3 linked regions of the Homo sapiens genome follow. The protein of the gene in region 3 interacts with the protein of the main gene of each other region in a biochemical or structural test. Each region holds a gene or a part of one and is shown on either strand. Other genes may lie near its edges. The genes, in order: UBE2H, EYA4 and TRIM69.

Region 1 (11,370 bases), on a different chromosome or scaffold from region 3:
GGCAACAAAACAAAACAAAATAAAAAAACAGAAACAGGTGAAAACACCTCCGAAAAGAAGTGGGATGCTTAAAAAACACACCAAACTCTTCCCTCCTCCCACCTCTCAAAAAAGGTGGCTGGGTGCAGTGGCCCATGACTGTAATCCTAGCACTTTGGGAGGCCCAGGTGGGCAGATCACTTGAGCCCAGGGGTTCGAGACCAGCCTGGACAACATAGTGACACCCCCATCTCTAGTATAAATAAAAAATTAGCCTGATGTGGTGGTGCATGCCTGTAGTCTCTGCTATTTGAGAGGCTGAGACAGGAGGATCACTTGAGCCCAGAAGGTTGAGGCTGCAGTGAGCCACGCTGCACTCCAGCCTGGGTGACAGGGCAAGACCTTGTCTCAAAAAAAAAGAAAAAAATAACAATTAGTAGGAATTCAAACACTCAAAGAATGTTTGCAACATACATGATAAATACATTTAAATCTCAGTAGTAGCATTTTGGTTTTTAAGTATTCAAAGCTAGAAACAGGTGTTCCTGTGCTGTGTGGGAAAGGGCAATATGAAAGATGCAGGGCGCTGGCCTGGCGTGGTGGCACACGCCTGTAATCCCAGTACTTTGGGAGGCCGAGGCAGGTGGATCATGAGGTCAGGAGTTCAAGACCAGCATGGCCAAGATGGTGAAATGCTATCTCTACTAAAACCACAAAATTAGCCAGGTGCGGTGGCAGGCGCCTGTAATCCCAGCTACTTGGGAGGCTGAGGCAGGAGAACTGCTTGAACCCAGGTGGCAGAGGTTACAGTGAGCCGAGATTGCGCCACTGCACTCCAGCCTGGGCGACAGAGTAAGACTCTGTCTCAAAAAAGAAAGAGAGAGAGAGAGAAAGAGAGAGAGAGGGAAGGGGGATGGGGGGAGGGACAGAGAGAGAGAAAGGAGAGAGAGAGAAAGAAAGAAAGAAGAGAAAAGAGAAGAGAAAAGATAGATGGACAGATGGATGCAGGGTGCTGAAACTGGGAAAACCAGCCACATTCTGCTCAGGGCCAGGCTACCAGGCCACCAAACTGAGGTGTGTAGTTACAGGACATAGACTGTTTTTAAAGCATTCCAAACCCGCTTAAAAGGTAATTTCCCATTCATTGCCTAATTGTAGCCCCTTTCCCCCCAACATATTTAAACTTCAGAGAGTTGCAGAAGAAAATAAGTGCTACTGCATAGATCACAATGAAGAAAACAAGCTCTTGTTCATCAAAAACACTGCTCTTGTTGCATTGTCAATCTCAAAACAATTCTCGTCTATTTGGGTGTTTTTTAGAGGTAATTCATCCTCGTTCAAACCTTATAACCCTGCTTACCTTAAGAGCTTGTAAGCTAAAACATGGTAATAGGATTTGTTATTAACCTTCCAGAAATGAGGGCAGTTAATGTGTAATTAGCTAGCTGGATAGTCTTGCTGTCATACTAAAACTCGCTATTCAAGCTTGTAATTACTAGACAATAATTTAGTTGTTAATATCAGAAAAGAATAACAAGAGGTAACTTCCTGCAATTACAAGCCAAGTGTCCATACGCTGGGAAGACTTTATAACTCAGTAATCGTAAGTGAATGAAGATAAAACAAATCAAGGTTACATTTACATATAATCAAGAATGAAACAAGCCCTAAAATCAGAGCCCCTACGAAAGTAGAGCATAGCTGTGGCTGTCTTTCAGAGCCATACCCTGGCTGGCTCATGTCCCACGATCCAAAAAGCCTGGACCACCCCATGGTTTTAAAGCTGACCACCAGTGAGTGTGGTATTTTTAATGAATGTCCACTAAGTTGTTCAAAGCCAGCAAGACTCCATTTTTATGTATATAACTAGTTAGACTCCTGAGCCACATACACCTCATCTGAAGATTTCCAAGCAGACAGATAAAGAAGGTTGGTTACGGAGCTAGCTAAGCACTGTTGAAGCGCAAATCCACAACTGAGCACATTTCTTTATTATGTACAACAGGTGACATTATCCCAATAGTACTGGACAGAATTGCTCTACTTGGCCTCTATCTACAAATAATGACATCCAGCTGTTCCAAAGGCAGGATGACGTTTGTGATTCAACATGGACAGATCAATACTGAAGTTCTCAAGCTGTTCAAATAGTAGTTGGCCAATTAATCATCCATGAAGACACATACATGTATTTCTTATCTGTGTAGTTACACTAAAATGTTTAGGAAACAGCATGCACTAATCCAGCATAAAGCATTATTTTAAGATATACCTTCTGCCAAAATCTGAATTATTTGGGAAGATTCACAGACTATCTAACTGAAAAGGGGATGGGATAAGTGTTAAATTTGTATTTTAAATTTCTAAATGCCTGGTAAAATAAATTTTAGGTGCCTGTAGTCCCAGCTACTCGGGAGGCTGAGGCAGGAGAATGGCGTGAACCCGGGAGGCGGAGCTCGCAGTGAACTGAGATCGTGCCACTGCACTCCAGCCTGGGCGACAGAGCGAGACTCCGTCTCAAAAAAAAAAAAAAATTTGTATCTCTTGCCTAATCTCAAAGTCCTTGAAGTATTCCTTCTGTTGTAGTCAATTTTATTTGCCTGTTACTAACTCCCCAGATAACTCTAGGGGAAGACTTTTCCCAAATGTTGATTTTTCTCTCCAGCAAAATAAGAGTAGAAGTATCTAGTCCACTGGCTAGCAACCCTAAGAGTGAAAATGTAAACTGCCCAATTTCATAAGAAAATTGTCTTCCACCTCACTTCTCCACAACTTTTTTTTTTGTTTGTTTTTTTGAGATGGAGTTTTGCTCTTATTGCCCAGGCTGGAGTGCAATGGTGCAATCTGGGCTCACTGCAACCTCCGCCTCCCGGGTTCAAGCAATTCTCCTGCCTCAGCTGTCCGAGTAGCTGGAATTACAGGTATGCGCCACCACGCCTGGCTAATTTTGTATTTTTAATAAAGATGGGGTTTCTCCATGTTGGTTATGGCTGGTCTCGAACTCCCGACCTAAGGTGATCCGCCTGCCTTGTCCTCCCAAAGTGCTGGGATTACAGGCATGAGCCACCGTGCCCAGCCTACAACTTAATCCATCATATAAATAATTTACGAAGGCAGTCAAAGAATGAGTAAAATGAAAGCTGGAGAGAGAAACACATTTGCAGGGATCAAGCATGCCTGGTCCAGAAGGGTGGGATGAGAGAGAGATTAAAGCTGTATCGCAGTGAAGGCACCTGGGCCCCCAGGAGTGCAGGGTGATAAGCCAACTACAGATAAAATATATTTTGGAGAAAAAAAGGAAAACTGGAAAATAGAAGAGTGCTTAAAAAGCTACCTGTGGCTTAATGAACTCTCCTATCAGTCCTTAAAATTAATTTGTTTTGAAATGGAAATCCAGATCCCCTTGGCTACATTTTATGTTTCTCAGAGCTTCTGTCACTGCTGTCTGGAAGAGCAGGAAGGGATGCAAAAAAAAAGATGCTATCATGCAGGAAGCCAAAATCACTTTGGTCATCTGCTACTTTCTGTTTAATGTCATAACAATAACAATAGATAACTTCATACTTGATAACTTCATACTGATGGCAAGCATCTTACAAAATTAATCCGATTCCTCACTATAATTAGCTCTCTTGTAAGGTTAAATAATACAAAATTAAAAATTACTGGGTGAGTAAACCACAATTATACCAATTTTGAACTCTGAATAAACAAATTGCACATACACTTGGCAAAGAGAAAACAGGATAAGAACAGAAGCAATGAGTCAACTGGCTTACCAGAAATCAATGGCGGGGAAGGGTGTGAGGGGACAGAGGACTAAATTTACTGCTAACATGAATGTTGTTTAATATCAGGCTATGATTAACATACATCTGAAATTTCAACTGTGAATTGTTGTTACGCTACAAATATGTATACCCACAGAACAGTACATGTCCTGGGGCAAGGTAAATGGCAGGAAATTTCACAATCCACTCCCTGCTCCCTCATCGAATCTACAGCAGAGGAAAGTGTTGAAACAAGTTTTAGGTGCCAGGCTTAGCCTTTTGCTTTTCAGTTGAATATTTATGTTGACACGCCAACTTTCTCCTATTAGTTATTTAGTGTTAGTTTTTTTTTTTTTTTTTTTTTTGGCGGGGCAGGGGTTGGCGGGGGCAGTCCTTTGAACTAAGATTCTCTCAGGAACCACTGCAGGAAATGAAGTGATTCAGAACTCACCAATTATGAACTAACCTTCAATGCCAGAGGCTTTAACAGTTTCTAATAAAAATTCAGTTCAGATCTCAAGTTCAGATAAGTCTGAAAAAACACTTCAAGGTCATCTGAACGAACATATTCTACCAGTACTTTATATAATTGTATTTACCTGTTCCTAAAACTTTCCGTGAAAGAAATGTTGAATTTTCTTCAGAAATAGTTTTGAGCAAAATGTCAAAACAATTCTCCCATGCTCAGTGTACTTTTGACTATACTCTGAAAATATTTCTTCTTGTTTTCCTGCACTTACCTGTTAGTGTGCTCACACTCCTGTATTATGGAACATGTTCAGTAACTCATACACATGTAACACAGAAGTCTGCTTTCAGTTCACTTGGACCAACGTGGTTTAACTCTTGCTGCTTATTAAATGCTTTGCAAGCTAATGTAAGTACACTAACATTTTATAAATGTGATGAAAACTTACTCATGTTGGCCACTTTACAAAGTAGTCTATCAGTCCTCAAATAGTTAAACATATTATCCAGCAATTTCACTCCTAGGTATATACCCAAGAGAAATGCAAACATGTCTACACAAATACTTGTGCACAAATATTTATAACACTCATAATAGCCAAAAGACAGCAATAACCCAAATGTCTATTATCTGACAAATAATGTGGTTTATCTACACAATGAAATATTATTCAGCCATAAGAACTTCCGATACATGCAACACGGATCAACCTTGAAAACATTATGCAAAGTGAAAAAAAAAACAGTCACAAAAGACCACATATTATATAATTACGTTTCTAAGAAGTGTCCAGAAAAGACAAATCCACAGAAACAAAAAGCAGATTCGTGGTTGCCTAGGGCGAATAGTTAAAGGGTACACATTTATTTTTGAGGTGATGAAAATGTTCTAAAATTGACTGTGGTGATGGCTGCATATAACTGAATGTATTAAAAACTACTGAATTACACACTTTAAATGGGTGATTTGCATGTCTGTGAATTATAATTCAGTGAAACTGTTATTTTTTTAAAAAACCTGTTCTGAGACATGAAGTACTTGACAGTCAGCAAACATCTTTCACAAAGCTTTTCTGGTCAATGGTAAAAGCTTTAGCAAAACTAAACATCAATTTACTTCATTGTAATTGGAACCAGATTGCAGTATTTTGATATGTACATTTTTAAGATGTGAATGTAGTTTAAGAAAACACATCATTACATCAGATATTCCAGGCAGCCTGCCATGAGACATTTTTACCAAAAAAACCATCTTAAAAGGAATCCATTTAATCAAGCTCGGAGTGTATGTTCTTTCTTGTTGCCTCAACTATATGCCATCATCTCCCCTAAAACTCTCTTGTTAAACAGTTCTGGACATGATTAATTCACTCATTAAGACAACAAATAGTCGAACCCTTATTGTGCACCAGGCACTGTTACAGTCACGTGTGCGTGTGCGTGTGTATAGAGAGAGAGAGACGAGAACAAGACAAAGTCCTCACTCATGGTGCTTACAATCCAAGGGGATAAGATAAATAATATACAAATACCAGTTTTAGAAGCTTATTGAAAACGGGGTACTAGCCAGGCATGGTAGTATGCACCTATAGTCCCAGCTACTGGGGAGGCTGAGATGGGAGGACTGTTCGAGCCTAGGAGCTCAAGGCTGCAGTGAGCTATTATCGCACCACTGCATTCCAGCCTGGGCAACAGAGTGCAACTCTGTTTCTATGTATTAAAAAATAATTTTAAAATTAAAAAATATATATACAACTGGGTGCTGTGCTATGGAGGGGTGTGATTTCAGATGGAGTAGCTGGGAAAGGAAACTGCTCTGAGGAAGTAATATGTGAGATGAGTGAAGAAGGTGCTAACCACACAAAGATCAGGGGGGAATATCCCAGGTAGAGAAAATAATTTTTGAACGGCACAATCAGGTGGAGGCAGGGATTAACTGTGTTCTGCTGGTGACCAACCTTTCTCTGTGATTCTCATTTACCAATCTAGTTCAAGGATATCTGGCAAAAGTAACTTGCAGATTGTGGCTGGACTAAGAAGTCTTACCTACCTCAGACCACTAAAAGGTCGTACAAGTTCAACAAGAAGCAGCCATCCCTGGTTAAGCTCAGCCTCAACTGAGCTTTCCCTTCTTTTCTTGTGCCTCTCAGCAATGGTTACCTGTACCATTCATTCTTTCAACCCATACTGGTGAAGGGCACTGTGATAAGAGTCCTGGGCCTTACAGATGAATCAGACACACACCCGATAGCCCTTAAGATAGGAAATAATCTAGTAGCACAAAAAAATAGGCATAAACAACAAATACACAGTAGAAAGTAAAAGTGGACCATAAAAAAGGAGCTATAAAATGTAATGGTATCCAGAGATTACTTCCAGCTGGAGAATCAGCGGAAGTATACGGGGTAGGAGCACTGGAGTAGGTAGACTCTATGAAGCCTGAGATTTGGACATGTGGAGGGAAAAACAGATTTATTTGTTGTATCCCTAATTAACTTCAAATACACAACTGACCCTTGAACAACATGGGTCCACACACAGTTTGAACTGCATGGGTCCATTCACATGTGGTTTTCAATAAATACAGCTAGCCCTCCATGTCAGTGGGTTTCACAGGGATGACTGTGGGACTTGAGTAAGCATGAATTTTGGTATCTGCAGGTGGTCTGGGAACTGATCCCCTGCAGATACCAAGAGATGACTGTATTTTAACATATTTTCAGCTCCCCAACCAGGTGATAAGGAGGAAAGGCCTGATGCTCTTTATAACTCTCTGGGATATTCAGCATAGCATTTTGCAGAGCTGGGCAATTCATTTGTTGATTCCCTGTAAGAGATGGGGTGTCAATTTCAGCACTGAAGGTAAGGCTAAATTACTCTTCCTTCATAAGGAGGTTTTGGTCTTTGAAAAGATGATCCCCTAAAACCTCTTACTATATCATTGCTCTCTCATTTCAGAGGGACATTCCTAAGTAGTTTTAGTTTTTTCCAAAACCAAAATATGTATATATTATGTGCTAATACATACATATAAAATGTTTGCACATGTATTCATGTGTGTGCGCATGTACTCATGTGTGTGCACATGTATCACTATACCTTAAGTTTGGAATCTCAAAAAATCATTTTAAACTTCCACAGCTAAACTGATATATTTGTACTTAAGAGAAAACATTTTTTCCACTGATCAAACTTTCCCAGTCGGTCCCTCAAAAATCCCTTCCCATTACCAACAAAACATCTTAAACCAGAAAAGAAAAGCCAAACAACATTTTTTTAGGCAATGTCTCAACATCTCCAAAAAATATTCCATGGCCAAACTCACCATAGAGAGCTGTCCAAGTTTGATTAATTACATCTAGACACACAGTTCCTGACCTGAAACAGATGGAAAGAATGGCATGTTTTTAAAAATTAGAAAGTTAGTTGCATGTATCTGGCAACTAATTTTTACTTATCAAGAGAAATACTTCTAATAGATCTGTGAAAAAAAGAATCCCAATTGGGGAAAAGTATGATGAGGAACAGAATAGTACCAGGTCTTGAAGTGTCACCTTACAGACTGAAAGGGGAAAATAGTAACTATGCAATGGAGAAACCAGACAACACCTGAACCAGGTGCTGAGAACACAAGGGGCAGACAGACCTTGTGTGTCTCTGAATGTGATACCCCAAGAAGGACACCATCTTACTTTGTAGTTTTCTGGCCTTAAGTGTGTTCATGCCCTGAATCTAATGATCAGGAAACATCAGACAAACACAAATTGAGGAACAATCTATAAAATAACTGGTCTATGTTATTTTAAAAAGTGAATTTTATAAAAGATAAAGGCAGGCTGAGGAACTAATCCTGATTAAAGCAGTTTAAAGAAACATGACAACTAAATGTAATGTGTGATTCTAGACTGGATCCTTTATTGAAAGAAAAAAGTGCTAAAAAGTAAGTTACTGGAATATGGCAGTAGATTAAATAAGTATTGCATTAACGTTAAATTCCTGAATCTGACAACTATATACTGTGGATAGATAAGAGAATATCCTTGTTAGGATAACTGATACAATAAAATATTAATATTAAAGGACTAAGGGGCATGATGTATGTATATATACAACCTACTCACACAGAGTGCAGAAAAACCTGTTAGGTATGTTTGTGAGAGACAGTAAAACTTAGTGCCATGACAAATTAAAATTGCATCCCAAACAATAATATATTCTAAACAGCACTAGAAGTATAAAACAGGATATGCTGGAATATTTTAAAGTATCATTAATAAAATATTAGAAGGAAAGAAGGGGATAAATAAGATTCATTAACTGAAATGAAACTATAGTCATTTTGCCTTACTATCTATCAAGAATTGAGAAAATATTATAAGATCTGAAAATAGTCTATCTGTAGGCTGAAAACAGATCTCTGAACTGTGTCTACAAAAAGAGAAGTGAGATGTGGAATATTACTACTGTTTGCTGGGTAACAAGAAAAATGAAGGACCCAGTCACGACAATGGAAAAAAATAAGTGGTACAACAGCAGAATGTGAACTAAGTGATTGAGAACCTCATATCCTTTGGATTCTATCATTTACATGACCATTCATACAGTCCTACCTCCTGATAAGGTCCAAAAAGATAACCGAGGCTTTTTATAACACAGAGAAACACTAATCATGAGCAGTTGCTGCTAAAATTGAAACATTTTAAAATAGTTACTTACGCTTCATCAATGTTGGGATGGAAAATTTTATTCATGAATCCTGTAAAAAGAGATGTTAATTAGCAGCAAAAAGTATCCAGAGAACAATAAAAGTATTTCAGTACTGGAAACAATTTCAGTATTGGGAAAAGGTGATAATACTTATAAATCACTACTTTCAACCTTAGATCTTTCATTACTGATAAACATTATATTCTCCTGATAGCTCCAATTATTTGGAATACATCAGCATTCTATTAACAAATGAGCAAACTGGGAGAAATGCAGCTTCTTATACAAAACAATCATTAAAGCAACTGTTTTCTGAGCTATGAAGGTACTGCTCAAAGATAAATTATACTACTAAATGGTTCATAGCCAGTGTCATGATAAAAGTTAAGAAACTTCACTCTCCCAGAAGTTTTGTTGTTCAAGCTCTAAATCTGGAGGTTCTGCATTTCAACTTCTCCTTCTGACGCTCACTTACTGGTATCACTTGGCTGCACTGTGCACGGAACATGAATGAAACTGTTGAAATGCTAAAGGAATACCACTTCAAACCACAAAGGATTTCCTAAAAGCAGTGACCAAAATATTTCCTTTAACATTAGTCTACTCATTCAGGGAAACCCAGTTTTGATTAAAATTGGGGCAACCAAGCAAGGAGTTAAAAAAAATACTCTAAGTTGGCTATATCTGTTGGAGGTTTAAGTTTTTAAAATTTTTCCTAGCAAACCAAGTACACACTTTAATAGCTATATGGCCATTTGAACTTCAAGGAGAAATTAATAAAACCAGTTATTCAGTCAGTCAGTATATATGCAAATGGCAATATTCTAAAGCAGAGATCCATTGTCAAAGGTGTCATTTTGTCATCCTTATCACTTCATTTCCTTTTAGGACTCATTCTGTTCCACACTTTCAATATCTGAAGTTCCTTATTAAGGTGAGTATCACCACCACTATCTCCGACCCCCATCCTCCATCACCCCCATCCCCACAGTCTCTCTCTCTCATATTCATTCAGAACATATTTGGTCAGCACCTACACCGCAGGCATTGTGCTTGGATAGGGTATAAAAATAAGACAGTTCACTATTCTTGAGGAGGTCACTGTGGCAGTGGGACAAGAGACACCAATAAATACCTGCAATCTGAATAAAGTATTGATACAGTAGGCGGAGTAAAATGGGAAGAGTCAGGAAAGATGCAGAGAAATGGCACTGGAGGAGGAGCCTCAAGTGAGGCGCTACAGAGATTGTCTCCAAAAACCTGAGAAACTTCCCCTGAAGTAGAAAACAGGGGATAAGAATACCAAGTCCAAGTAGTCCAGTCTTAGACCACTCTAGTCACTCACACTTTTAACTTTTGTTTTTAAATGCTCTGTGTTGAAACAGCATAATGTTCTATCTACTACAATCAAGAGGGCCTATGTGATGTTTAAGTTACTCTGATGAAAAAAAATCTTTGTGTCCAATATTAATTTTTCATTAAGGAAATTAAAGATGTTTCAAAGTCTAGATTTAAGAAGCATGTGGTTTATGAAGACATTTTAATAATGGGAAATGTTCATGTCTTGGTATTAAGAGGAGAAAAATTAGGGTAAAAAACATTCTACATTAACTTTAGAAAAATACTAATACACATGTCCCAGATGCCCCATGAGAGTATTTGTTGCAATATTATTTATAAAAGCCAACAGCCAAATTCAACCCTGTCAATGGGATAGGGTTGGATAAAGGGGAGTACATCCATCTACCTGAGTCCTATACAGCCAAGGGTAATGAAGTAGATCCATGTGTATCAACTTGTATACATCTAAAGCTGAGTTTTGTTTTTTTTTTTTAAGTTGCAGGATGTTATATTTACAGGCTGAGGTTATTTAAATAAACTAAAACAAACAACTACCAATTCTCCATGGTAACAAGTATAGGAAAACTGTACTGAACCAACATATACCAAATTTGCAAAAGTAATTGTTTCAGTTAGGGCACAGGGCCAGGGTCATGATAGGAAAAGGGAACAGAAGAGGAAACAGTGGTTAAAAATGACTTTATCTGGCCAGGCACGGTGGCTCATGCATGTAATCCCAGCACTTTGGGAGGCCAAGGTGGGTGGATCACCTGAGGTCAGGAGTTCAAGACCAGCCTGGCCAACATGGTGAAACCCTGTCTCTAGTAAAAAGAAATAAAAAATTAGCTGAGTGTGGTGGCGTGTGCCTGTAGTCCCAGCTACTCGGGAGACCGAGGTAGAGAATCACTTGAACCCAGGAGGCGGAGCTTGCAGTGAGCCAAGATCACGCCACTGCACTCCAGCCTGGGTGACGGAGTGAGACTGTCTTTAAAAAAAAAAAAAGACTTTAACACTATTAATATATTCCTTTTAAAAAGGGACAATGTGCTTCTATATTATTTGCTCTGTTTAAAACATATGCACATAAATAAGAAACTGAAAGTAA
Region 2 (11,370 bases), on a different chromosome or scaffold from region 3:
AGCGGTCTATCAATTTTGTTGATCCTTTCAAAAAACCAGCTCCTGGATTCATTAATTTTTTGAAGGTTTTTTTGTGTCTCTATTTCCTTCAGTTCTGCTCTGATTTTAGTTATTTCTTGCCTTCTGCTAGCTTTTGAATGTGTTTGCTCTTGCTTTTCTAGTTCTTTTAATTGCGATGTTAGGGTGTCAATTTTGGATCTTTCCTGCTTTCTCTTGTGGGCATTTAGTGCTATAAATTTCCCTCTACACACTGCTTTGAATGCGTCCCAGAGATTCTGGTATGTTGTGTCTTTGTTCTCGTTGGTTTCAAAGAACATCTTTATTTCTGCCTTCATTTCGTTATGTACCCAGTAGTCATTCAGGAGCAGGTTGTTCAGTTTCCATGTAGTTGAGCGGTTTCGAGTGAGATTCTTAATCCTGAGTTCTAGTTTGATTGCACTGTGGTCTGAGAGATAGTCTGTTATAATTTCTGTTCTTTTACATTTGCTGAGGAGAGCTTTACTTCCAAGTATGTGGTCAATTTTGGAATAGGTGTGGTGTGGGATGCACCAGAATTTTTTAGAGTTAAATTGAGTTGCTTAAGTGGCTTTTGATTTCTAAATATTACAAGTAATGCTACCAAAATATATTCTTACATCTTTCGTTATTCTGAGACTATATTCACAGAATAATTAGGGTCAGAGGGTAAGTTAATTTTGCTAGGGGTTCTACTACATAATTCAACAAAGCATCTGTTTTTCTGACATTCCAGGCATTTTGTGAAAACTATTGGGTTGGTGCAAAAGCAATTTTGTTTTTTGCCATTAAAAGTAATGGCAAAACTGCAATTGTATCAATATGGTAATATATGTGGATAACTCAGCAAATTCCATAGCATGTAACTACTCAATGTATGTTGATTTCTTTTTCTCCTCCCTTCCTTGTTATATCTTTATTTATTTCTGGAATATCACATATTCCTTTAGTTGCCTTAAAGCCATCTGTTTAATAATTAATCTGTATATATTATATAGTATATATAATCTAATAATGTAATCATCTTTTTTAACTTATATAGAAGACATCTTTTAGAAATAATGAAAGCTATCAACCTCCTTCTCAGAGAAATGCACACTCCACTACATTTTACACATCATGTCAGTGGCTCAGGGGTCCTCGTGCTCCAGCGTCCCTGACATTTGGTCTCTCTTGTCACCAATTACAGAGGACATGAGATAGCAAGTCCCATTTCAACTGGTTTAGACATTTCTTCCTTATATAGAGCCAGAATCTCCCTTGCAGGATTCCTACTCATTGGTCCCAGTTCTTTCCTTTCCAGACACAGGGAGAAATCTAATTGATTTTCAGCCTAACGTCTGAAACAGGTGAAATTGGTAATCTTGGTTCTGCACATGACTCTTCTGACTAAGCTCTCTGGCTCCTCCTTCCATCTGTTTCTTTTAGGTGGTTCCCACAGTCCAAACCCGTGACTGCCACACTTGACACAGGCTGCTTCAACCCTGCCACAGCCCCCACTGGAATATGGTCCCTAGAACTGACAAACTAAGCTGCCATGGCTTCCCCAGTCAGACACAGGAAGCTACTTCCCCTCCGCTCTCCATTTGGACTTTCTGCTATCCATGCAGCTCTGCCTGTGCCACGAGTCAGAAGCTGTGCAGGATGTGACAACTATTCATTTACTTTCATGTTCTTAATATTAACTTTTTTTTTTTTTGCCCTGTCAGGCTTTTCTGCATTCTGATTCAATTAGTCCAAATAAATCTTTCTCTGAATGCTGTGTTCCCCATACATTTATTAAGCATGCTTTTTTCTTCTTTTTTTAAAACTAACAATTTGTCATCTTATTCATTGATCTTTTCTTTTCCAACTTTTATTTTAAGTTCAGGGGTACAAGGGCAGGTTGGTTACATAGGTTAACTTGTGTCATGGGGGGTTGTTGTACAGATTATTTCATCATCCAGGTATTAAGCCTAATACCCATTTTTCTTTTTGCTGATCCTCTCCCTCCTTCTATTCTCCACCCTCTGGAAGGCCCCAGTGTGTGTTGTTCCCCTCTATGTGTCCACATGTTCTCATCATTTAGCTCTCACTTGTAAGTGAGAACATGCGGCATTTGGTGGGAGTGTAAATTAGTTCAGCCATTGTGGAAGGCAGTGTGGCGAATCCTCAAAGATCTAAAGACAAAACTACTATTTAACCCAGCAATCCCAGTACTGGGTATATACCCAAAGGCATATAAATCATTTTATAATAAAGACACATGCACACACATGTTCACTGCAGCACTATTCACAATAGCAAAGACATGGAGTCAACCTAACTGTGCATCAATGATAGACTGGATAAAGAAAATGTGGTACATGTACACCATGGAATACTATGCAGCCATAAAGAAGAATGAGATCATGTCCTTTGCCAGGACATGGATGGAGCTGGAGGCCATTATCCTTAACAAACTAACACAGGAACAAAAAAGCAAATACTGCACGTTCTCATTAATCTTTTCTTTACTTTTTTTTTTTTTTGAGACAGAGTCTTGCTCTGTCTCCAGGCTGGAGTACAGTAGCATGATCTCAGCTCAGTGTAACCTCCGCCTCCCAGGTTCAAGCAACTCTCCTGCCTCAGCCTCCCGAGTAGCTGGGACTACAGGTGTGCACCACCACGACCAGCTAATTTTGTTTTTTTTTTTTTGTATTTTTAGTAGAGATGGGGTTTCACCATGTTGGCTAGGGTGGTCTCAATCTCCTGACCTCGTGATCCACCTGCCTCGGCCTCCCAAAGTGCTGGGATTATAGGCATGAGCCACTGCGCCTGACCCATTAATCTTTTCTTAATGGAAATGCTGACAGATTCTTTTTTTTTGACTTTTATTTTAGGTGCAGGGATACATGTGCATGTTTGCTATATAGGTCACGGGGTTTTGCTATACAGATTATTTTATCACTCAGGTACTAAGTCTAGTACCTAACAGTTACTCTTTCTGATTCTCTCCCTCCTCCTACCCTTCACCCTCAAGTAGGCCCCAGTGTCTGTTGTTTCCCTATATGTGTCCATGAGTTCTCATCATTTAGCTCCCACTTATTAAGCATGCTTTTATTTATTCACCTAACTCAGATATAAAATAATGGAAGCGGACAGTACAGAGATTCAACTCTACCTTACCAGCTATCACGTTCCAGACTTACTTACATCACTTTATGAATTAGCATATTTGGCACCTGGTTGTACAACTGGTTACAAATCAATTTAATTCTGCTCTGTATACTGACACAAGTCAGAATTTCACTGTTTAGTTCAAACAACAAAATGGTTAGAATTTTTTCAAGAGCTTTCTCCTGCTTTTCTGATGTGCTTACATTATGTGTATTATCCATTATGGCCTAACACCTAAAACATGCCTTTTTGTATCAACAGTACTGTTTCATATTTGCCATCACCCCCTTGTACTTTGCCACCAACTGAGTTCTCTTTCTTTTTTCATTAGAAGTCATGTAACCATTCTGTGGGGATTATCAGTTGCTATGAGAAGAGATGGGTGGTGAGATAGGGTCTCCTGTTTATTCTGAGAAGCAGCAACCTTCTCTCATCCCAACACACACACACACACACACACACACACACACACTCACACACACACTCTCTCTCTCTCTCTCTCATGCACATGCACTGAAATTGAAAAAATCACTGAACTCAGAATTGTTAGGTCCCTTAAAGTCTAAAACAGTCTAGGAATTAAAACATTTTTTCTATGTTGTACAATTAGAACTAAATCTTCAATACGATACACATAGAAAGGTAACAATTCCACTTACCTAGTGCTAATAATTGATAAAGACTTAAGTGCATTTGTTAGCCAGGAATCTGTCAGACCTTCAATCTCTGCCCTTAACTGTAGCCAGGCATCCCTCTTGGCAGGGCCAAGGAGTCCTGCAACACCAAAAAACCAAGGCAGAGTCGAGAGATGAATATTGTCTCAGAATATCTAGTTTAGATTCCCTTCTGTCTGGAATAGATCATTTTTATTTCAGTATATATCAGAAATGCAGAGAGATACAGATTTATGTCCATATTGATCCTTCGTTTCTGAATTGAATATCCATTGATTCCGTCAATGAATATTTACTGAACTTCTAGGTCTCAGGTAGTGCCACTGAAAAGTGGCCCCAGTCTCTGCCCTCACTGATCCTACAATCTAGCGCAGTGGATCTCAATCATCTAAAGAGCTTTGAACATGCCCCTGCCTGGATCTTATTCCAAGGGACTGTGATATTTGAGGTCTGGAGGAATAGTTGGGCTTCACCAACCTAGGGACACAAATCCCAAATGTTTTGACTGTCTGAAAACGTTTAGCTTCTTAATAATCACAATCATTTCCACTTTCAAACAGTAACAATGGCATCATCATATGTAGCTGTTAAAATGTTTCTAATACTACTGCTAATGCTACTATAAATACTTTGCTATGTAAAAAATTAATAATTTTGTTTAAAATCATGAAGTGTAGGACAGTTACAATCATGAATTATAATATTGATGTTAAAAGAAAAAAGATAGATGTGCTAATTTTTTATTTTAAAAGATCCAGTTCTTGCTTTTATGATAAAACAAGATCATGTAAATCCATTAAAAAGGAAGGTTTCTTATTGAAATTGTGTTTTAGAATATCGGGAGCACATACACACTTGTATGGTTTTTTCAATCAAAATTTACAGTTTCTAGCAAGTCTCATTTGTCCTCATTATAATAGAGAGATGCTCACGTATGACAGAAAGTAGACTCGTGGTTGTTTAAAGTTTCTAAGATACAAGATTACTTCTTAGTCTTCTTGTTAACTTAAAATAATTTTATTAATACACCGCAAGAAGGAAATGATGACATCTGAATGATAAAAATTAACTCAGATTTCCCAAGGGGATATTTATTTTAAAGTTAAAACATATTATCTACCATTGATTTTAACTAGAAAATCTACTTATTTGATTTTACAAAAGCATCATGTACAGAGCACTAGAGCAAATCAGGAAATCAGAGATTCTCCCCAGCACCCCATGCAAGTCGGCAGCTTGCAGGGGTCAATTTCTTTTTGGAAATGAATGTCTTCCATATCTAAGCTCCCTTTTGTTGCTAACATTATTATCCTCTTTGGCTCTACATTTTTTGTTCTCTTACAGTTATTATGTATCTGTTGAGCATCTCTTATGTGTTTCACTGCTAGGCACTGGGGATACAAGGTGACCAGACACATAGCCCCACCCTCATGATGTATATGGATATATGTGATTATATACTATATATGAACATTTTATTTACTATATTGTATTCTATGATATATATGTGAATATATGTATGTATAGTATGCACATGTATATTTAGTATATTGGATTCTAGTTTATGTTCCTCAATTACTCTTCCTTTTTAGAAAAAAAGAGAAGCACATAAAGAAACAAAATCCTGGGAGATTAATCTGATGTGACCTAATAGCAAATTTTAGGAATCTTGTTTACCTAAAATTGATTCTAATAAGATATCACCAAGGTTTATTTTATATATAGAAGCACATCCAGGATCACAGTTTTGATAGCAAAGGTTTTGATATCACCTGTAAAATATATGAAGGGGTATAAAATGGTTTTGATATTACCTACAGATTATTTGAACTTTTAAAAACTATGATAATCATAGTTGACACTATGCATGAGAATGATACACTGACATAAAACATGATTTTTTTAAAAGATAAAATAAACCTGTTGAAAGTCTTTGAAATGACATTAATAACTGTTTATATTTATTTTTGATGGGATTCCAGAAAGATAATGCTTGCTAACCACCGTCCTTCAATGATTGAGGCTCTCTACTTGAGAAAGGACTTCTTTCTGTTGCCTCGGTTAGTTCCTCTGTCTGATTTTCACTGATAATGCTCCAAGCACCAGCTGATAAAGGGTCAACTAAATGCCCTGGTATAAATCTTGACCAAACATCTGGGCACAAGGTTACACAAAGAATTCCCAATTTATGTGACGGTGGTGCATGTTTTATTTTGTAGTTAAATTTTTTCCCACCAATTCTAAGAAACTTCTGGCTCAATGTGGTTTAATATGAGCTTTTGCTTGTTTCTTTTACAGCAGAATCATCTTTAACATGAAACTACAGATTGAATTCTACCTATACCCAGAGTACCTTTGTTAGATTGAAAAAGCCACACATACCTCCAACGTTGTTCTTGTAGGTGTTATATAATTCTTTTACTCTTCTGTAACGAAAAGCCAACTTCCTCATCCAGTCAACCCCTCCTCTTACACCTGTTGGCAAACAAAGGTTTGCACTACTTGCAGCTGCATGGAAGCCATCAGTTGCAAAACTGTAGGTACTGTAACACCCAAAATACATTAAAAAGAAATAATTACATGTGCAAAACTCCACAGCCGAATTTCTGTAGGAAACAGCATACTGAAAGGCATAGCTTACCTTAAGTCCTGCCCATTATCATCAGAGGAAACATCATCTATATGAACTTGATCACACTCCTGTTAAAAACATTGGAAAAGTTATTTGTTTTCTAAATGATGCTTGTTACCATGCTTGAAGGTTTTCCCATCTTCTCATCTGATCAGACTACCACCAGAAGATGGCAGCATGTGCCCGTCCATCTCATTGCCTCACTCTTGTTTTCTTCTGTTGGGAAATGGCACCATTTCTACCCCACAAAATTTAAATCCAGAAGAGTTCCATAGAAAGGAGGGGTGAGAAAATATACGGCATGAGAGTTTCTTTAGAGCAATTTAAAAATTTTAATCTTAAAATTATTGATAAGAAATTCTCTTGAATCTTCATAAGCATTTGAGTTCCCTTCCAGGCCATTTCTGTTGTGCATACTTAAGCATGGCTAATCTGAAGATACACAAAACTTAGTCTGAACACCTCAGATGGTTACTATTATTTATCATTTGTTGAGTGGCAACAGAGGGGCTTGCCTTCAGATTATGGTGTCCTGTGGAATTTCCATGACTTCCTGCTGGACCAGAACCATGAAAGAACCATGCTGGTGTTATTTCAAGGTCCTAGTCTTTTGACACAGAAAAAGGGTAATGATCATAGATATTGACATTTTCTTTTTGTCAAGTTTTTAAATTTTCAAATCAAAAAGACTACTTTTAAGTAAAAGGGAAATAATGACGATTTATCATCTCAAATGTGCTACAAAATTCCAAGCAAAATAAACTTTATGTAAGTATACCCACACAATTGACCTGATTTTTTTTTTTTTTATATGGAATCTCACTTAGTCGCCCAGGTTGGAGTGCAGTGGCGCGATCTCGGCTCACTGCAAGCTCTGCCTCCTGGGTTCACGCCATTCTCCTGCCTCAGCCTCCCGAGTAGCTGGGACTACAGGCGCCCGCCACCACGCCTGGCTAATTTTTTTGTGTTTTTTGTATTTTTACTAGAGATGATGTTTTACTGTGTTAGCCAGGATGGTCTCGATCTCCTGACCTTGTGATCCGCCTGTTTCGGCCTCCCAAAGTGCTGGGATTACAGGTGTGAGCCACCACGCCCGGCCACAGTTGACCTGATTGTAAGTTACTGTGTGCTCAGAACAAATGGTAACTTATGTGGATAAGGATTTGATCCTTCTTTGCTGTTCTGAGTCTTAGTCCATCTTCAAATAATCTGCAAAGTTCCAGCGCAATATTACAAGATCTAAAGGTGAAATTTGGTGAGGGCATTTAAAATGCCTAGTTCTCAGAATAATAAATATATAATAAATAAAAATAAATTATTTATAATAAATAACTACATCATATTAACCTCAGAGTAAGTATGGTTTAGCATCTTGGGCCTCCTTAGTCCCCCTCAAAGTATTTTACTCATACTTACAGCTTCTGACTATATACATAGTGCTTAGCATTCAAAATTAATTTTTAAAAAAAATCATTAAATTTGAAAATACACCATACTAAACAAAGGTTTTTTGAAAGCTACTATTTATATTCATTATTGGGCTTGAAAGTATCTGGCAGTCAAATATTTCATACCTAGTCTCCAGATTTCCACACAGAAAGTGTTTAATCCGGTTCCAGTTTAAAGGTATAGTTGACTCAGGCTTCCTTTAATATACAAAACTCAGTGACTAGCCCAATCAGTACCTTCTGAGTATGTAACTTGAAAATCCAGGTAAGTTAAAAGTTCATATAATTTACAGAAATTACAGGGTTAGTAAGTTTTGAATAAATCTCCACCTACACGTATGGGTCCCCAAATTTAATCTGACTGGAAGTGCCCTGGAGTGCGGCATTTGGTTCACCAGGTTACATCCCCACTTACGGCACAATCTAGCATAGAATAATCACTCCACAATTCTTTCTTAAATAAATGGGAGAAGTCTAGACAAATGCTAATTCTTTACAGGATTACCACAATCATTTAAATTTTCTAACACAAGGTTACGATGATATAAAATAAAAGCATTCTAAATGGTGAGGAGAGTAAGAAGATATTTATGTCAAGAGTGGAAGGAAGGGAGAGAGAAGAGTGCAGAGACTGCCCAAGGAATGGCCTGGCCGGACAGGTATTTAGAAAATGTCTTCCCCTCTTTGACCAAGTATTGGCTGAAAGGAGTGCAGTCCAAACTGTAACCAAAGGAGGCATTATGCTTCCTGAAAAACATCCAGTAAAGGCATTGCAAGCAATGATAGTAACTGCTGGACTGGGCTTTAAGGAAAAGAGTGGAGAGATTTTACCCATTAGCATAAGGGTTGGAAATAAAGTTTTTCTCCCAGAATATGGAGGCACCAAAGTAGTTCTAAATGATGAGATTATTTCTTATTTAGAGATGGTGACATACTTGGAAAGTCCGTAGACTGAAATAAATCACTATTGAAATGGTGTCACATGAAGTTGCCCATTCCATTGAAGCTCTGAAATCTTTCCACATGTAAATAACTTCTGTGTTTCTCTTTTATAATAAATTAATGACATTCAAAAAAGTGGAGGAATCCTTGTAAATTTCCCTGGTAATCAGAAGTTATTTCTCTATTTAATATCCTCTCATTGTAATTTTTAGAGAAATTCCTCTGACATTAAATATTAACTCGCATGATTAATTTGTACATAGGTTGCCCAAAAACTTATCTTTTACTCCTGAGGACAACAGTATATCACACTTATTGGACCATAAGCTCCATAATTGAGGTTATATTTGAGGTTTTTCCAAATTTAACTTTTCTTTAAATTTATGCCTAGTTAACTATGCCTGTTGACTCTGGACGGTTGCCTGAGGATTACGGTCCAGTGAAAGAAACCTGAACTTCCATTATTTACATTTTTAGAAAAAGCTAAATAATTGTCCTTCAATTATTTTTCACTCTGAGAAACTTTGTAAGAATCATTTTGACCAAAAAGTGAAATACTAAAAACACTGTAATGTTTTGGCTTTAACAAATTTTAATAAAACTCAAACATTTGAAAATATTCTAGAACTAACTTTAAATACTTTAATTTTGTCTCACAAAGTGACCAAAAAGTGGTCACTGATATTTATCAGTTATAATTCACAGCAGTCTTTTCTCACCTTTGCCATCTCAAACTTCCTGAGACTTCTTTTCTGGAGGTTATTCTAACCGAAATAGCACTTTATTTAAACACACAGGATTCTCTTCTGTTGGGGGAGGGTAGTTTGGGCATCTGCCTTCTCTGCAGTTGGGCAGGATGCAGTGAAGTGTCTATTAGGAGGATTTAAATTTGTATCTTTTAAGGAATTATGTGAGGAACAGCTGCTACTATATATGTTGCAGTATCTACTGAAAGAATGGAGTGTCAAATTAGATGGTTCGGTTTTTTTTTTTTTTTTAAGAAAAGCACCCTGAGAGCTTAAATATTCAACATCAACAATGACAACATAATAAGCTAATGTTAGAGTTACTCTCTTGAGGAATTCTTTTTGTCAACAAGAGTAGAAATCATTTAATTCCAGTTATGGAGCCCAAGACAATTTTTGGCTGTAAGAGGTTTATTGAAATAAAAAGTTGTGTGAAAGTAAAACTGCCTTTCAAAGTCAGATGCAGAAGGATAGGGCGCTATGTATGTAACTGTACTGAATGCTTTTGAAAGCTACTGTTTTGATTCTATTGGTTTTAGTGCTTGTTTACTCAAGTCAGTAAAAATCATTTATGTTTCCTTGGGCACTTTATCTGGATGTGCAAGCATTTGTGTGGCACGCATATACAGTGAGAGTTCAATTTATCTGCAGAAACTCAATTATTTTATTGATTAAGTACAGTATTGTTGAATAGCTAAGTTCTAGGGTTTGAGTCAAATGAAATTCTTATCACATTCTAAAACACAACTAAAAAGCTATATACTCAGAGAAGAGAAAGTCAATACCAGTATTTTCTCATGAACTACTTCTACCAAAGATCCTGCCAGGTATTTTTGAAATACATATAACATAGTACCTGAACTAAAATAAATGTCTTTAAGTGCCATACATGACTACAACATGTTTTTGATATACCAATATTCATTTCAAACTTGCTAGTTAGTTACAAATTCATTATATGCTACTTTCACCTTCTCACTGCAGTGTTCTTTTAAAAGTTGGGTAGCAAATTTATTCCATCTGGCTTCTAATGTGCCACTACAAAAGCTAAAAGTTCATTTATTCCACTTATTTCCAGTAAAAAATAATTAACCAAATGAAATAAGCACTTTTACTTGGATACTACCACATAAAATTTCTTTTTTCTTTTTATACCTTTGAAAAGACTAATAATATTAAGATCCTCTTTACAATGCAACTCATCCATACTGATCAACAGAAAAACTAACCCCAAAAGTTATCGCTGTATGTAAAAAATTCAAGTTGTGGAAAGGTTAAGGTGTTTGTTATTACCAGATATATATATATAAAATCATTCTGTATTCATAAGTAGCAGGATCAATTTAAATCAGGTTTTAGAGAGGTGATTATTATTTGTTATCTAAAACTGAAAGCTTGCCTAGTAATATGAGCTTTCATACTGTCCACTGTAGAAAAAAAAGAATGCCGCTTTAAACAGACAGTAATTGTATTATTCAGTAAAAACATGACTCACCATAGAGAAAAACAACAACAACAACAGCAAAATGCTATTACACAGATTTCAGCACACACATTTATGGAATGTACTGAACCACTCATTTTTACTCTCATGTCTCAAATATAACTCAAACTGGATTTAAGACCTTGTCATTTAAAAAAAAAAACTTTCTAACTGGCGTGTTGGTGGGAGTGTAAATTAGTTCAACCATTGTGGAAGACAGTGTGGCAACTCCTCAAGCATCTAGAACTAGAAATACCATTTGACCCAGCAATTCCACTACTGGGTATATACC
Region 3 (11,370 bases):
AAAAAATCAGCCAGGCGTGGTGGCAGGCGCCTGTAGTCCCAGCTACTCGGGAGGCTGAGGCAGGAGAATGGAGTTAACCCAGGAGGCAGAGCTTGCAGTGAGCCAAGATCGCGCCACTGCACTCCAGCCTGGGTAACAGAGTGAGACTCCGTCTCAAAAAAAAAAAAAAAAAAAAAAAAAAAGAAAAAGTAATGAAATAAAAATGCGATTCTTTGGAGGGAAAATCCACAAAATTTAGAAACCATTAAGTAGACTGATGAAGAAAAAAAGAGAGAAGATTTAAATTACTAAAATCAGAAATGAAAGTGGGTAAATTAGTACAGATCTTACAGAAATAAAAAAGGATTATAAGAAACTATGAACAATTGTATGCCAACAAATGAACAACCCAGATGAGATGGAAAATTTCCAGAAGCACACCAACTACCAAAACTGACTCAAGAAGAAACAGAAAATCTGAACAGACCTACAAAAGTAAAGAGAGTAGATCAGTAATCAAAATCCTCCCAACAAAGAAAAGCCCAGGACCAGACGGTTTCACTGGTAATCCTGCCCACTATTTAAAGAATTAATATCAATCCTTCTCAAACTCTTCCAAAAAAACAAGAGGGAACACTTCCTAATTCATTCTGTGAGGATAGCTTATCTTGGTCCTAAAGACAGATAAAGACATCACAAAAAACAAACTATTTTTAGTTTTCTTTTTGCAAAAGAGTGAAAAGACAACTCACAGAATGGAAGAAAATATTTGCAAATCCTATACCAGATAAGGTCTATTATCCAGAATAAAGAACTCTTACAACTCAATAGCAAAAAATAAACAACCCAATTTTTAAAATGGACAAAGGACTTGAATAGACAATTATGCAAAGAAGATAAACAAATGACCAACAAGCACATGGAAAGATACTTAGTATTACTAGTCATTAGGAAAATTCAAATCGAAGCCACAGTGAAATACCACTTCACACTCACTTGTATTGCCGTAATTTTTTAATGGAAAACAATAAGTATTGGTGATACAGAGAAATGGACTCTTGTACATTGTTAATTGAGAATATAAATTGGTGCAACCACTGTGGAAATCAGTTTGGCAGTTCCTCAAAAAATTAAACAAAAAACTACCATAAGACAGACCTACCAATTCCACTTCTAGGAATATACCCAAAAGAACTGAAAACAGATAGTCAAACAAAAACTTGTACCTAAATGTTAATAGCAGCACTATTCACAATAGGCACAGGTGGAAGCAATCCAAATGCACATTAACTAATGAATGGAAAAGTGTGCCATATTCATACAATGGAAGATTATTCAGTCAGAAAAGGGAATAAAGTATTCATACATGCTACAACATGGATGAACCTCAAAAACATTATGCTAAGTGAAAAAACCCAGACACAAAAGGTCACATATTACACGATTCCATTTATATCAAATATACAGAATAGGTAAGTCTATAGAGACAGCAGATCATTGGTTGCCAGGGCTGGAGAGAAGGAGATATGGGGAGTGACTGCTCATATCACTGGAAGTGACTGGTCATGGGGTTTCCTTTTGGGAGGACGAAAATGTTTTGAAACTAGATAGAGGTGATTATTATACACCATTGTGAACGCACTAAATGCCACTGAATTGTACATCTTAAAAGATTAATTTTATGTTGTATGACTTTTACCTCAATTTTTGAAAAAATGGAAGCTGTAGGCCAAGCATGATGGCTCACGCCTGTAATCCCAGCACTTTGGGAGGCCAAGGCAAAGCTTGATCGCTTGAGCCCAGGAATTTGAGACCAGCGTGAGCAACATGGTGAAACCCTGTCTCTACCGGAAAAAACAAAAACAAAAACAAAAACTGGGTGTGGTGTCACGTGCCTGTAATCCCGGCTACTCGGAAGGCTGAGGCTGGAGAATCGCTTGAACCTGGACTGTTAAGGCTGCAGTGAGCCTAGATCATGCCACTGCACTCTAGCCTGGGCGACAAAGTAAGACCCTATCTCAAAAAATTAATAATACTAAACTGAAGCCATTTGACTCCGGAGCCAGAATTTTTTTTTTTTTTTTTTTTTTTTTGAGACAAAGTCTCACTCTGTCGCCCAGGCTGGAGTGTAATGGCATGATCTTGGCTCACTGCAACCTCTGCCTCCCAGGTTCAAGCGAGTCTTCTGTCTCAGACTCCCGAGTAGCTGGGATTACAGGCATGCGTCACCATGCCTGGCTAATTTTTTGTATTTTTAGTGGAGACAGAGTTTCACCATGTTGGCCAGGCTGGTCTCGAACTCCTGACCTCAAGTGATCCACCCACCTTGGCCTCCCAAAGTGCTGAGATTACAGGCATGAGCCACCACGCCCAGCCCAGAGCCAGAATTTTTATACTGAATAATATCCTGCTTTGCAGAATGCTATATAATGCCTTCCAGGGTGGGCTACTATTTGATGAATAGCCACCAGAAGTGGCCACCAGAAGTGGCTTCAATCTCAGTGCCTAAAGGTCTAATGGTGTAAATAAACATTCAGTGATGGCAGCTTTGTTTCTATGCCCATACTTCCTGGGTCATAGAAATGAATAACATAGAGGCTCTGCCCAAGAGCTGCTCACATCTGGACCTCCACTACATTTATGGGACCAGGACAAAGTGCAACTAGAAGTCCCTAGCTTCTACTTTTCAACTTGCATATCATCTTCCTCTGAAGGATAAAAAACTTAAATATAGACAGAAGATGTATTCTGAGGCAAAATCCCTGAGAGTTTGTCCAGAGGTTACTCTTCTGTTCTTGAGAGGAAAACTGGAGCTCAGAGGAGTACGAACTTGCTCTGACACTCAAGTCACTGGTGAAATCAGGGAATTCAAAGAACTCTATCCTGAAGGCCAGAGCAATTTCCATCTGCTATATATCCACTTGAGAATTGGAGTATCCAGAACTGCTCTGTTCCTCATTCCTAACCCTGCCCATTCCTCGTTAGAAGTTTACATTTACCTCTCCTTATGGGCTTAGTTTCCCTTATATTCAGATTTATTCTAGCCAGGGGAACATGGCTAAACATTCTTTGCCTCATGATCAAATTCCATTCTCATTAATAACTATTTATATTGCCCTCATTCCATGTCTACATTCTCACTTTTGTTGTGAAAATGCTTTTGATTGAGTCTGTAGCCCTTTGCTCCATAGTTTCTCACATAGCCTGTGTTCCCTATTGCTGATGCCTGATCTCCCCAAACCTGGGTCTTGCCTGTCTGGACCTAATACGGCCATCTTCTCTTTGAATGTTGCCTTTCAACCATTCTCTGTAGCCTCTTTTTCTGAAATTCCTATCAGACAGATGTTGACGCTTCTCACTCCAGTCTTTATTTCTATTAATTTCTTTTTCATATCTTCTAACTCCATAACTTTCTGTGCTTTGCTTTGGACATTTTCTCCCATTTTGTTGTTTTATAGATGCTATTTATTTTGTATTTCTTTAAACACCTTTGAATGAGGTGAGTTCTTCCTGAATCAGCTATTTGCAAGAGACTTGTATGAGGATGGAGGCAGGGTTATATTTGAGGCTATTTTCTTTATAAAACAATGTTTGCATGGGTTCTTTTTTCCCCATGATCAACACTGCAGGGTTGTTTGCAATGCAGAGTCTCTCTCCTCCATTCTACCTCAGCAACAGACTGCTTTCTGAAAATATGGCATATTTGTCCTTGTTCAACTTCACCTTTCCCATATCTCAAATCTGTATAACAAATGGGTTACTCCAGCTTAAGCCTGCTTGCCTGTTCTCTTTGTTCTGTACCAGGGCTTGTGGGTTGTGGCCAACAGGATGGGGTACTTTCTTTGGAAAAGTACCACCTCCCTTCATGTAAGGTCTGCTTCCCTAGGCATCCTTTCTCACATTCCTGCTTGACTTTCACTATATTTGGCAGTCCTTCCTCATAGATTGTAGTCCAAGCTATTTGATGTCTCTAGTTTCATTGCAAATTATTTGTCTATTTTTCATTCTCCTTGTGGTTTTTGACTTAAAGAAGGATGAGTTTCTAAGAGAAGGGAGAAAATTAGTTTTTAATCCACCATTTAAAAACTAACACTTAAATTGTTATTGACACTTTAACGTTTCTATATATTTAAAGAAAGATGTGTGTGTGTGTGTGTGTGTGTGTGTGCACGTGCACGTGCTGGGAGTGGGCAGAATATTTCAAATGTCCTCAATATATGAATTTGACTAGACTGGGTAATGGACTTTCAGCATTAATCAGTGTGGATGCCTTTCCTGAAAGATAACAAATTTACCTCCAGCCCACAGGAATGGGAATGCAAAGCCAATATTTAGTGTTATAGAAAATACTATGTGCTATTCTTTGCACACTTGAGTTTTAAACTAAGATTGATTTCTTTTTTTATATACAATTATTGGTTTATGCTATTATCTTTTAAAACTTTAGAAAAAAAAGAAGAGTTACAAACCAAAAATAGGTAGTTCTTTGATGAGTGCTTTTTTTATGTCTTTGTCTGGGTTCAAGTTATTGTCTAATGTCCCTTCATTTCAGCTTGAAGAAGTCCCTTTGTCATTTTTTGTAGGTAAGATCTACTAGAGATAAGCTCAGTTTTTGTCTGTCTGAGAATGTCTTAAATTCTTCTTCATATTGGAAAGATAGTTTGGCCAGATACAAAATTCTTTGTGGATTATTCAATTACTTTGAAGATGTCATCCCATTGCTCTCTGGCTTCCATGATTTCTGATGAAAAATTAGCTGTTAACTTATTGAGGCTCTCTTGTACATAAGTCACTTCACTCTTGCTACTTTTAAGATTATTTTTGGCTTTTAATAGTTTAATTATAACTTGGTGTGGCTCTCTGTTAACTTACATAGAGTTTGTTGAGCTTCTTTGATGTATAGCTTTATGCCTTTTGTCAAATTTCAAAAGTTTTAAACCATTATTTCCTTAAGCATTCTTTCTGTCCCCTTCTCTCCTCTCTTCTGGGACTCCAACTATGCATAACAGTCCCACAGGTTTCTGAGGCTCTGCTCATTTTTATTCATTCTTTTTTTTCCCTGATCTTCAGCATAATCTCAATTGACCTATTTTCAGTTTCATGAATTCTTTCTTTTGCCTGCTCAAATCTGATTTGAACACTTCTTGCGAATTTCTCATTTCAGTTATTATGCTTTTCAACACCATAATTTCTCTTTGGTTCCTTTTTATAACTTCTACATCTTTGCTGGTATTCACTATTTGGTGAGACATCAGTCTCATGGTTTCCTTATTTGCAAATTGTTTCCTTTAGCTATTTGAGAATATTTAAAATAATTGATATAAAATCTTTGTCTAGTGAGTCCAATGTCTGAGCTTCCTCAGGAATAGTTTCTATTAATTTCCTTTTCTCCTGTCCATGGGCCATATGTTCTTATTTATTTATACTTGTTGAATATCCGATACTTTGACAAGTATAATGTGAAATCTCTGGAAATCAGAATCTTCCACCTTCTCTGGGGTTTTTTGTTACTTCTTGTTGTAGTTGTTTTGTTTAGTTAGTGACTTTTCTAAACAAATTTTGTAAAGTCTGTATTCTTCGTCACATGTAGCTACTGAATTCTGTCCCATGAACTTAGTAGTCATCTAATAGTTCAACAGAGATTTCCTTAAATGCCTAGAATCAACCCAAATCAAACAACAACAACAACAAAAACCTCCCAGTCTTTGTAAATGGGCTTCGTATATGTTGAGCATGCCTTCAACACACAGTTTACAACTTCCTTAGTCCTCAGTTCCTGCTTACACAGATCCTAAAAGTCACTCCGAGAAGAAAACTTGGGGTCTTTCTCAGGTTTTTTTTTTTTTTTTAGTATGCACTCAGTCCTGGGCATGCAGTTGGCCTTCTAGATTACCAGGAATATGTGGGTACTTTTCAAAGGGTATTCCCCAAAATAACTCTTTCCCCAGCCTTTCTTTCTCAGCTTTTTGGTTACTCTATTGTTTGCCCCAACTATTATGCCTTTCCCCAGGTGGCAGCAATAAAAACATTTGCTTTTAAATGTTTCCAAACTATACCTCCAGGGTAGCCATCTCATCTGTGAAAAAGTTCTGAGTTAAACAAACTAATGGCAAGCCTTTTATGTAATACTTCATGGAAGCACCAGACAGGTCAAAGCCACAGTTCTTTGGGAATAAGGTCCATGCTGCTCCCACTTGTACTATGTACCTGTAGTTGGAATGTCAGCTGTCTTTAAAACCACCACCAAGATGGGAAATGAGGAAAACCTGAGTAAGTTAAAGTGTTAAAAAGTTATTTTACAGAGATTCAAGGTTTTATTTAATTATTATTAAATATTTCCCTGGTTGCTGTAAGCTTTTGATTAGTTTCAAGTTTTAAAAAACTCGATCTTCAAAATTTTTGCCAGTTTTTGTGGAGGGATGGACTTTGGGACTTCTCTACTCCACCATTTTTTTTATTATTATTATACTTTAAGTTTTAGGGTACATGTGCACAATGTGCAGGTTAGTTACATATGTATACATGTGCCATGTTGGTGTGCTGCACCCATTAACTCATCATTTAGCATTAGGTATATCTCCTAATGCTATCCCTCCCCCCTCCCCCCACCCCACAACAGTCCCCAGAGTGTGATGTTCCCCTTCCTGTGTCCATGTGTTCTCAGTGTTCAATTCCCACCTATGAGTGAGAACATGCAGTGTTTGGTTTTTTGTCCTTGCAATAGTTTACTGAGAATGATGATTTCCAATTTCATCCATGTCCCTAAAAAGGACATGAACTCATCATTTTTTATGGCTGCATAGTATTCCATGGTGTATATGTGCCACATTTTCGTAATCCAGTCTATCATTGTTGGACATTTGGGTTGGTTCCAAGTCTTTGTTATTGTGAATAGTGCCACAATAAACATACATGTGCATGTGTCTTTATAGCAGCATGATTTATAGTCCTTTGGGTATATACCCTGTAATGGGATTGCTGGGTCAAATGGTATTTCTAGTTCTAGATCCCTGAGGAATCACCACACTGACTTCCACAATGGTTGAACTAGTTTACAGTCCCACCAACAGTGTAAAAGTGTTCCTATTTATCCACATCCTCTGTAGCACCTGTTGTTTCCTGACTTTTCAATGATGCCATTCTAACTGGTGTGAGATGGTATCTCATTGTGGTTTTGATTTGCATTTCTCTGATGGCCAGTGATGGTGAGAATTTTTTCATGTGATTTTGGCTGCATAAATGTCTTCTGAGAAGTGTCTGTTCATGTCCTTTGCCCACTTTTTGATGGGGTTGTTTTTTTCTTGTAAATTTGTTTGAGTTCATTGTAGATTCTGGATATTAGCCCTTTGTCAGATGAGTAGGTTGCGAAAATTTTCTCCCATTTTGTAGATTGCCTGTTCACTCTGATGGTAGTTTCTTTTGCTGTGCAGAAGCTCTTTAGTTTAATTAGATCGCATTTGTCAATTTTGGCTTTTGTTGCCCTTGCTTTTGGTGTTTTAGACATGAAGTCCTTGCCCATGCCTATGTCCTGAATGGTAATGCCTAGGTTTTCTTCTAGGGTTTTTATGGTTTTAGGTCTAATGTTTAAGTCTTTAATCAGTCTTGAATTAATTTTTGTATAAGGTGTAGGGAAGGGATCCAGTTCCAGCTTTCTACATATGGCTAGCCAGTTTTCCCAGCACCATTTATGAAATAGGGAATCCTTTCCCCATTGCTTGTTTTTCTCAGGTTTCCAAAGGTTAGATAGTTGTAGATATGCGGCATTATTTCTGAGGGCTCTGTTCTGTTCCATTGATCTCTATCTCTGTTTTGGTACCAGTACCATGCTGTTTTGGTTACTGTAGCCTTGTAGTATAGTTTGAAGTCAGGTAGCATGATGCCTCTAGCTTTGTTCTTTTGGCTTAGGATTGACTTGGCGATGCGGGCTCTTTTTTGGTTCCATATGAACTTTAAAGTAGTTTTTTCCAATTCTGTGAAGAAAGTCATTGGTAGCTTGATGGGGATGGCATTGAATCTATAAATTACCTTGGGCAGTATGGCCATTTTCACGATACTGATTCTTCCTATCCATGAGCGTGGAATGTTCTTCCATTTGTTTGTGTCCTCTTTTATTTCATTGAGCAGTGGTTTGTAGTTCTCCTTGAAGAGGTCATTCACGTCCCTTGTAAGTTGGATTCCTAGGTATTTTATTCTCTTTGAAGCAATTGTGAATGGGAGTTCACTCATGATTTGGCTCTCTGTTTGTTATTGGTGTATAAGAATGCTTGTGATTTTTGTACATTGATTTTGTGTCCTGAGACTTTGCTGAAGTTGCTTATCAGCTTAAGGAGATTTTAGGCTGAGACAATGGGGTTTTCTAGATATACAATCATGTCATCTGCAAACAGGGACAATTTGACTTCCTCTTTTCCTAATTGAATACCCTTTATTTCCTTCTCCTGCCTAATTGCCCTAGCCAGAACTTTCAACACTATGTTGAATAGGAGTGGTGAGAGAGGGCATCCCTGTCTTGTGCCAGTTTTCAAAGGGAATGCTTCCAGTTTTTGCCCATTCAGTATGATATTGGCTGTGGGTTTGTCATAGATAGCTCTTATTATTTTGAGATACATCCCATCAATACCTAATTTATTGAGAGTTTTTAGCATGAAGCGTTGTTGAATTTTGTCAAAGGCCTTTTCTGCATCTATTGAGATAATCATGTGGTTTTTGTCTTTGGTTCTGTTTATATGCTGGATTACATTTATTGATTTGCGTATATTGAACCAGCCTTGCATCCCAGGGATGAAGCCCACTTGATCATGGTGGATAAGCTTTTTGATGTGCTGCTGGATTCAGTTTGCCAGTATTTTATTGAGGATTTTTGCATCAATGTTCATCAAGGATATTGGTCTAAAATTCTCTCTTTTGGTTGTGTCTCTGCCCGGCTTTGGTATAAGGATAATGCTGGCCTCATAAAATGAGTTAGGGAGGATTCCCTCTTTTTCTGTTGATTGGAATAGCTTCAGAAGGAATGGTACCAGTTCCTCCTTGTACCTCTGGTAGAATTCGGCTGTGAATCCATCTGGTCCTGGACTCTTTTTGGTTGGTAAGCTATTGATTATTGCCACAATTTCGGAGCCTGTTATTGGTCTATTCAGAGATTCAACTTCTTCCTGGTTTAGTCTTGGGAGGGTGTATGTGTCGAAGAATTTATCCATTTCTTCTAGATTTTCTAGTTTATTTGCATAGAGGTGTTTGTAGTATTCTCTGATGGTAGTTTGTATTTCTGTGGGATCAGTGGTGATATCCCCTTTATCATTCTTTATTGCTTCTATTTGATTCTTCTCTCTTTTCTTCTTTATTAGTCTTGCTAGCAGTCTATCAATTTTGTTGATCCTTTCAAAAAACCAGCTCCTGGATTCATTAACTTTTTGAAGGGTTTATTGTGTCTCTTTTTCCTTCAGTTCTGCTCTGATTTTAGTTATTTCTTGCCTTCTGCTAGCTTTTGAATGTGTTTGCTCTTGCTTTTCTAGTTCTTTTAATTGTGATGTTAGGGTGTCAATTTCGGATCTTTCCTGCTTTCTCTTGTGGGCATTTAGTGCTATAAATTTCCCTCTACACACTGCTTTGAATGTGTCCCAGAGATTCTGGTATGTTGTGTCTTTGTTCTCATTGGTTTCAAAGAACATCTTTATTTCTGCCTTCATTTTGTTAGGTACCCAGTAGTCATTCAGGAGCAGGTTGTTCAGTTTCCATGTAGTTGAGCGGTTTTGAGTGAGTTTCTTAATCCTGAGTTCTAGTTTGATTGCACTGTGGTCTGAGAGACAGTTTGTTATAATTTCTGTTCTTTTACATTTGCTGAGGAGAGCTTTACTTCCAACTATGTGGTCAATTTTGGAATAGGTGTGGTGTGGTGCTGAAAAAAATGTATATTCTGTTGATTTAGGGTGGAGAGTTCTGTAGATGTCTATTAGGTCCGCTTGGTGCAGAGCTGAGTTCAATTCCTGGGTATCCTTGTTAACTTTCTGTCTCGTTGATCTGCCTAATGTTGGCAGTGGGGTGTTAAAATCTCCCATTATTATTGTGTGGGAGTCTAAGTCTCTTTGTAGGTCACTCAGGACTTGCTTTATGAATCTGGGTGCTCCTGTATTGGGTGCATATATATTTAGGATAGTTAGCTCTTCTTGTTGAATTGATCCCTTTACCATTATGTAATGGCCTTCTTTGTCTCTTTTGATCTTTGTTGGTTTAAAGTCTGTTTTATCAGAGACTAGGATTGCAACCCCTGCCTTTTTTTGTTTTCCATTGGCTTGGTAGATCTTCCTCCATCCTTTCATTTTGAGCCTATGTGTGTCTCTGCATGTGAGATGGGTTTCCTGAATACAGCAAGCTCCATCAGCTCCTTTAAGCACTTCTCTGTATTGGTTATTCTAGTTATACATTCATCTAAATTCTTTTCAAAGTTTTTAACTTCTTTGCCTTTGGTTTGAATTTCCTCCTGTAGCTCGGAGTAGTTGGATCATCTGAAGCCTTCTTCTCTCAACTTGTCAAAGTCATTCTCCATCCAGCTTTGTTTTGTTGCTGGTGAGGAACTGCGTTCCTTTGGAGGAAGAGAGGCGCTCTGCTTTTTAGAGTTTCCAGTTTTCCTGCTCTGTTTTTTCCCCATCTTTGCGGTTTTATCTACTTTTGGTCTTTGACGATGGTGATGTACAGATGGGTTTTTGGTATGGATGTCCTTTCTGTTTGTTAGTTTTCCTTCTAACAGACAGGACCCTCAGCTGCAGGTCTATTGGAGTTTGCTAGAGGTCCACTCCAGACCCTGTTTGCCTGGGTATCAGCAGCGGTGGCTGCAGAACAGTGGATTTTCGTGAACCGCGAATGCTGCTGTCGATCATTCCTCTGGAAGTTTTGTCTCAGAGGAGTACCCGGCCATGTGAGGTGTCAGTCTGCCCCTACTTGGGGGTGCCTCCCAGTTAGGCTGCTAGGGGGTCAGGGGTCAGGGACCCACTTGAGGAGGCAGTCTGCCCATTCTCAGATCTCCAGCTGCGTGCTGGGAGAACCACTGCTCTCTTCAAAGCTGTCAGACAGGGACATTTAAGTCTGCAGAGGTTACTGATGTCTTTTTGTTTGTCTGTGCCCTGCCCCCAGAGGTGGAGCCTACAGAGGCAGGCAGGCCTCCTTGAGCTGTGGTGGGCTCCACCCAGTTCGAGCTTCCCGGCTGCTTTGTTTACCTAAGCAAGCCTGGGCAATGGTGGGCGCCCCTCCCACAGCCTCGCTGCCGCCTTGCAGTTTGATCTCAGACTGCTGTGCTAGCAATCAGCGAGACTCCATGGGCGTAGGGCCCTCCGAGCCAGGTGCAGGATATAATCTCCTGGTGCACCGTTCTTTAAGCCCGTCGGAAAAGCACAGTAT

What was found.
Region 1: the proteins of TRIM69 (region 3) and UBE2H form a complex in vitro, tested with the Homo sapiens proteins (one study listed by BioGRID).
Region 2: of the proteins of TRIM69 (region 3) and EYA4, one has a biochemical effect on the other in vitro, tested with the Homo sapiens proteins (one study listed by BioGRID).

Annotation. Positions count from the first base shown.
Region 1 is NC_000007.14:129,849,969-129,861,338, forward strand, and holds part of UBE2H (ubiquitin-conjugating enzyme E2 H), read right to left. Parts: intron 8,974-11,370; coding exon 8,934-8,973; intron 7,596-8,933; coding exon 7,543-7,595; intron 1-7,542. UniProt on the Homo sapiens protein: Accepts ubiquitin from the E1 complex and catalyzes its covalent attachment to other proteins. E2 ubiquitin conjugating enzyme that transfers ubiquitin to MAEA, a core component of the CTLH E3 ubiquitin-protein ligase complex.
Region 2 is NC_000006.12:133,507,878-133,519,247, reverse strand, and holds part of EYA4 (protein phosphatase EYA4), read right to left. Parts: intron 8,976-11,370; exon of another isoform or gene 8,522-8,975; intron 6,528-8,521; coding exon 6,469-6,527; intron 6,371-6,468; coding exon 6,210-6,370; intron 3,928-6,209; coding exon 3,813-3,927; intron 1-3,812. UniProt on the Homo sapiens protein: Tyrosine phosphatase that specifically dephosphorylates 'Tyr-142' of histone H2AX (H2AXY142ph). 'Tyr-142' phosphorylation of histone H2AX plays a central role in DNA repair and acts as a mark that distinguishes between apoptotic and repair responses to genotoxic stress.
Region 3 is NC_000015.10:44,739,528-44,750,897, reverse strand, and holds part of TRIM69 (E3 ubiquitin-protein ligase TRIM69), read right to left. Parts: intron 1-11,370.